2 linked regions of the Homo sapiens genome follow. The protein of the gene in region 1 interacts with the protein of each later gene in a biochemical or structural test. Each region holds a gene or a part of one and is shown in the gene's direction. Other genes may lie near its edges. The genes, in order: JAG2 and NOTCH3.

Evidence for each region.
Region 2: the proteins of JAG2 (region 1) and NOTCH3 form a complex in vitro, tested with the Homo sapiens proteins (one study listed by BioGRID).

What each region holds. Positions count from the first base shown.
Region 1 is NC_000014.9:105,155,239-105,159,049, reverse strand, and holds part of JAG2 (protein jagged-2 isoform a precursor), read left to right. Parts: intron 1-1,286; coding exon 1,287-1,344; intron 1,345-3,060; coding exon 3,061-3,312; intron 3,313-3,427; coding exon 3,428-3,488; intron 3,489-3,811. UniProt on the Homo sapiens protein: Putative Notch ligand involved in the mediation of Notch signaling. Involved in limb development.
Region 2 is NC_000019.10:15,158,314-15,160,853, reverse strand, and holds the end of NOTCH3 (neurogenic locus notch homolog protein 3 precursor), read left to right. Parts: coding exon 1-192; 3' UTR 193-1,816; downstream 1,817-2,540. UniProt on the Homo sapiens protein: Functions as a receptor for membrane-bound ligands Jagged1, Jagged2 and Delta1 to regulate cell-fate determination.

The sequences.
Region 1 (3,811 bases):
TCTGAGACATCTTGGGAGGCCAGGCCTGTCCTTAGCTGGATGAGGCCGAGGCACTGGGACGTGCGTGGGGTGGGCGGCGGGTGAGGACCAGGGAAGGGCTGGCAGGCGTGGGGTTGGGCCTTGCTGGGGAAGTGTGGTTTTCCCCAGCTTAGCCAGGCCTTGGGGCTGGTTGGATGGGGTGTGCTGAGGGATGGAGTGAGCCTGGCCTGCCTGGACACTGCCCAACGCAGCATCCCCCCGGGGTGGGAAGCCAGCAGGCCCTGAGGTGACTCAGCCCCAGCCCCCTCCTCTGGGCCCCACCTGGAAGGAGCCAGGGCTGGGCTCAGGGGTCAAGAGCACACCAGGGGTAGACTGGGGGGTTCCTGGGCAGTGAGGGCTGAGAGGCTGTGGAATGTGGGTACCCAGTGCTGGGTAGTACAGGGCATGTCCCGGGGGTCCCACCTGTCTGAGCATGTCTGTGAGTGACGGTCTCCGTGGGCTGCACTAGGCGGAGCAGGGGGCCAGCCCTGTGGTCTCTTTGCTTGGCTGACAGCATCGCCTGTCGCCATGGCTGGGGTACAAGGGCCAGGTGGCCCGGGGGCAGAGGGGGCATAGTGGCCATGGTCTGAGGCTGTGCTGGGCAGTCCCAGGACCTCTTGGCCTCAGTTTCCCCAACTGTACCGCAAGGGCCCCTCCTGCCACCTGTTCTGTGTGAGGGTGGAGGTAGGTGTGGGTTTGCCTGTGTGCTGTATGCCTGCAGGACCTGAGCTCCGGCCTGTTGGGGCCTCTGGCTGGGCGCCCTGTACTTGGCCACCCCGTGCACTTGGTGGAGGCCGCCAGCGTGGTGATGGGGCCCCACGTTCTCCCCCGTGGTCACCCCCAGTGAGGCACCAAGGGGCGTTCCACAGGAAACGCTCGGGTCCCGGCTGCCCATGGGGCCCCTGTCTGTGGCCACTCCAGCCAGGCTGCCCTTTGCCCACCTCTCCCCCCGGTCGCTCTTCCTGTGCTCCGTGCTGACTTGAGCCAGCTCAGGGCAGGCTGGGCCTCTGGCACCCCAACGGTAGGGAGCCCAGGCCCCTGAGCCCGCGTGGCCTGGAGGGGCAGTCTCCCTCCCTTGAGCTGGGTCATTTTTGGGTCTGCAGAGGATGTGGCCTGAGGATGAGGAGGGTGGTGGGTCCCTGGCTGGGGAGGAAGGGCCAGAGCCTGGCAGACCCAGGGGCAGCGTCTGAGCCCTGGGCCTTGTCCCACCCTGAACGAGGCAGGCAGGTGTGGCCTCAGGTACCTGACCCGCCTCCCCATGTCTGCAGCGCTCCTTTACCCTCATCGTGGAGGCCTGGGACTGGGACAACGATACCACCCCGAATGGTGAGTGAGCCCTGGGCCAGGTGGCAGCTCCTCTCAGCTTCAGCGTGCCTGTGGCAGGGCCCAGCTCCTCTGTCTGCTTGGGACAAAGCCTTGCTTTACCCTGAGGATCATGTGTGCTGTTTCCCTTTTTGCTTTGGCTGCCAGGAAGCTCTGCCACGTTTGGGACTTGCAGAGCTGTGCATGCACTCTCTTCCCCAGTCCTGGCTTTGCCTATGTTGTTCTCCTCTTGGGTGTGCTCTTTTGGGGCCCATGGCAGTGACTTAGTGGAGGGGACACCCTTGAGTGTGTCTCTGGCTTTGTGGCCCCCTCTGCTTGTCTGTACTGGAGCATGGAGCCTTGGTGGCCCTCTCCCTGAGGCAGGGGCTCTGCAGGGCCCTGCAGGGGTAACGGGATGACTTCCATGGGTGAATGCAGAAGCACCCACAGGCCAAGGGAGCAGCTCGTGTGAAGGTCTGGGCAGGAGCGGGCTGGCTGTGCAGGGGGAGCAGCCGGGGCTGGGCTCAGATCATGGAGGCTGGCAAGCCACTGAGAGGACACGGGCTCCGCCTGGCAAGCTGTGGCTGCCTTATGGAGGGTGGGCTGTGGGGCCAGGACACAGACCGAGGAGGAGCTGCCACGTGAATCTGGGCGTGTCAGGGTGACTTGGACCAGGGGCAGTCTGGGGGTGAGAGGGGCTCTCAGAAGTGGAGGCATGGGGTTGGCCAATGGGTTGGAGGAGGGAGAGCGGGGCCAGGGCATCCTGGCTGCCAGCAGAGTGGAGGGGCTGTTTTCAGGGCAGGGACGGCGGTGGGGGTGCCCAGGTGGGGAGCAGCAGTTGTGGGGACCCCAGCGGCTCAGGGCAGGGGTGTTTCCTGAGGGGGTGGCAGAGAGACAGGTGGGCTGAGTCCCAAGCAAGGTCGTCAGGGCTCTTGACAACGTGAGCCTGGAGAGGCTGGGGCGGCCGGGACGCCCCTTGGGGAGTGGGCCAGCACAGTGTCCTCCCAGGCCTTGGCCCGAGGCGGGAGAGGTGGGGTCTGGAGGACCCGTTCACCTTTTATTGTGCAAAACGTCGAGCCTGTGCCTAAGCGCAGGGACCGGCATCACGGACTTTGCATACCAGCGCCAGCAGCTGTGGTGCCCCTGGCCCCTGGTCTCCTGGTGGCTTACTTAAAGTGAGGCTTAGACAGCGGGTCACGGGACCTATGCCTGTCTTGGGGGCCTGAGGGGAGGCTTGTCTTAAGGTGGGGACGGTAGTGGTGTTTGGCACTTCTGGGAGCAAGTCACAGCGCAGGAGAGGGGAGGGCAACTGAGCACCATGTCCGTGCTGTCGAGGGCTGGACACGGCGCAGGTGGGTGCAGGTGTTGGAGCAGGGCTGCAGGTGGGTGGGCACAGGTGTGGGACGTGAGACTCACGCCCTGGCAGCAGCCGTGCCTTCTCTGTGGAGCCTGTGGTCTCAGCAGCCCTCCCTGCAGGGCCCCTAGCCCCTAGCCGGGCCCCCCGACCCTCTGCGTTTAGGGTGGGAGCGGGGCGCAGGCTTGGTGGCGGGAGGGAGAGGCCTCTCGGGGCCCTGAGCTTTCTGTAGCAGCCTGGCCGGGGGCCCTGCCCTCCGTGTGCTGCTGCCTGCTGTGCCCCGGCCTTGCAGCAGCCGCAGGCTTCTGCCCCGTCCCCGTTGTTCCTGGAGGACCCCTGGCCGGGCTGGTTTCTCTGGCCTGTGCTGACTCTGCCGCCTCCCCAAGAGGAGCTGCTGATCGAGCGAGTGTCGCATGCCGGCATGATCAACCCGGAGGACCGCTGGAAGAGCCTGCACTTCAGCGGCCACGTGGCGCACCTGGAGCTGCAGATCCGCGTGCGCTGCGACGAGAACTACTACAGCGCCACTTGCAACAAGTTCTGCCGGCCCCGCAACGACTTTTTCGGCCACTACACCTGCGACCAGTACGGCAACAAGGCCTGCATGGACGGCTGGATGGGCAAGGAGTGCAAGGAAGGTGAGGGGGCCGCTGGGCTGCGTGGAGGGCAGGGAGGGCCTCGGGCAGGGCCCCGGGCACAGGCCTTGCGGCCAGGCTGGCTGCAGCTGTGCCTCTCGCTCCTCTCTGTTCGCAGCTGTGTGTAAACAAGGGTGTAATTTGCTCCACGGGGGATGCACCGTGCCTGGGGAGTGCAGGTGAGTGTGCCGCCGGCCCGTCTTTGCCCTCCCAACCTTTGCCCTCACGTCCTCACTGGCACACACAGCCTTGCTGTCAGGAGTCGCCCGGAGCTGGCTGGAGGTTGGGCACACAGCTGTGAGAGCCGGGCCCTGAGCTCGGGAGGCTCCTTAGTGCAGTAGGTGCGTGTCTGAGCATGGGATGTGTCTGATGGCGGCAGCCATGTGAGGACAGTGAGGAGAGACTGGGGAGGCTGGCTGGACAGTCACGTCACCGAGGGGCAGAGACCCGGAGGCTGCAAGCCACCCAGAGATGGGGCATGGGCAGAGGACACGGTAACCCT
Region 2 (2,540 bases), on another chromosome or scaffold:
TCACCTCCCTCCCTCTCAGACTGGTCCGAATCCACGCCTAGCCCAGCCACTGCCACTGGGGCCATGGCCACCACCACTGGGGCACTGCCTGCCCAGCCACTTCCCTTGTCTGTTCCCAGCTCCCTTGCTCAGGCCCAGACCCAGCTGGGGCCCCAGCCGGAAGTTACCCCCAAGAGGCAAGTGTTGGCCTGAGACGCTCGTCAGTTCTTAGATCTTGGGGGCCTAAAGAGACCCCCGTCCTGCCTCCTTTCTTTCTCTGTCTCTTCCTTCCTTTTAGTCTTTTTCATCCTCTTCTCTTTCCACCAACCCTCCTGCATCCTTGCCTTGCAGCGTGACCGAGATAGGTCATCAGCCCAGGGCTTCAGTCTTCCTTTATTTATAATGGGTGGGGGCTACCACCCACCCTCTCAGTCTTGTGAAGAGTCTGGGACCTCCTTCTTCCCCACTTCTCTCTTCCCTCATTCCTTTCTCTCTCCTTCTGGCCTCTCATTTCCTTACACTCTGACATGAATGAATTATTATTATTTTTATTTTTCTTTTTTTTTTTACATTTTGTATAGAAACAAATTCATTTAAACAAACTTATTATTATTATTTTTTACAAAATATATATATGGAGATGCTCCCTCCCCCTGTGAACCCCCCAGTGCCCCCGTGGGGCTGAGTCTGTGGGCCCATTCGGCCAAGCTGGATTCTGTGTACCTAGTACACAGGCATGACTGGGATCCCGTGTACCGAGTACACGACCCAGGTATGTACCAAGTAGGCACCCTTGGGCGCACCCACTGGGGCCAGGGGTCGGGGGAGTGTTGGGAGCCTCCTCCCCACCCCACCTCCCTCACTTCACTGCATTCCAGATGGGACATGTTCCATAGCCTTGCTGGGGAAGGGCCCACTGCCAACTCCCTCTGCCCCAGCCCCACCCTTGGCCATCTCCCTTTGGGAACTAGGGGGCTGCTGGTGGGAAATGGGAGCCAGGGCAGATGTATGCATTCCTTTGTGTCCCTGTAAATGTGGGACTACAAGAAGAGGAGCTGCCTGAGTGGTACTTTCTCTTCCTGGTAATCCTCTGGCCCAGCCTCATGGCAGAATAGAGGTATTTTTAGGCTATTTTTGTAATATGGCTTCTGGTCAAAATCCCTGTGTAGCTGAATTCCCAAGCCCTGCATTGTACAGCCCCCCACTCCCCTCACCACCTAATAAAGGAATAGTTAACACTCAGTGTTGTTGGTCTGTGTCTAGGTAAGGTGGGGAGTGGTGGCAGTGGGACTTCTATCTCCCCCACCCAGGGCTAACTTGAGCTCCCATCTTGGGGTAAATACATTTGACTTGCCAGTCTACTTATGCTTCCTCTTTTGGCAGATGACTACCGATTGGATTAGTGGTTGTCACCTGACTTAAGCTGAGCCAATCAGATTCTTTTGCTCGAGAACTTTCTTTAATGGAGAGGCTAAGAAAGTTGTCAGTTGGTGGAGCTCTTAAGGTCACAATCAGATTTAGAAATATCAGTGGCCAATTCGAGGTGGTGGGCAAAGAGACAAGCAAACAGGGCAGAAGAATGAAGCTAATATTCAGGGAGAATCAGAAATGAGAGCTCAAATGGCTCCTTGAGGGCTGGGGGGGTTATCTCGGCTCCCAGTGCAGTTATCAATTCCAGTTAATTGAGTGTTCATTCCATTGAGATCAACAGGTATTTATTAATTGCTTTCTAAGTATCTGATCATGGTTCTGCATGAATTTCACTTTTACTTCATGCTCCTATGGGTTTTGGAGATAACCTTGGACCCATGTAATAAATACTTCTTTACTTGTGCCAGCTTCGGTGGGTTTCTGTTACTCGCAACCAGTCGTGCTCCAAGACAAGGTTCTGTTTACACTGGTGTCTTCAGGAAAGGAGGATAGGATTTAATGTTCGTTGATTCTGTCAGTTGGAGTGCTCCTGGTTGCAAATGACACAAAAGTCTACTGGCTTAAACAAGAAAGGGGTTTATTAGCTCATATAAATTAAAAGGACCTACTTCAGGGGAGAATTGATCTAGTGGCTCAAATGTGGTCAACAATGGCTCAGTTTCTCTTCATCTCTACAGCTTTCTCTGGGCATCAGTTTCATCTACATGCTCCACATGGCACCCAGTAGAACCTCTCTTCCCGACATCACACAGCTCCAGCCTTCTCTCTGTGTTATCAAAATAGGTGCCATATTGCTCCTTCCAGGGAAGAGAGAAACTCCTAGTATTGTGATTGATTTTTCTTTTACTTTCTTCCTTTTTTTTTTTTTTTTTTTAAGATAGAGTCTTGTTCTTGTCACCCAGGCTGGAGTGCAATGGCACAATCTCGGCTCACTGCATCCCCCGCCTCCGGGTTCAAGCAATTCTCCTGCCTCAGTCTCCCAAGTAGCTGGGATTACAGGTGTCCACCTCCATGCCTGGCTAATTTTTGTATTTTCAGTAGAGACAGGATTTCACCATGTTGGCCAGGCTGGTCTCGAACTCCGGACCTCAGGTGATCCATCCACCTTGGCCTCCCAAAGTGCTGGGATT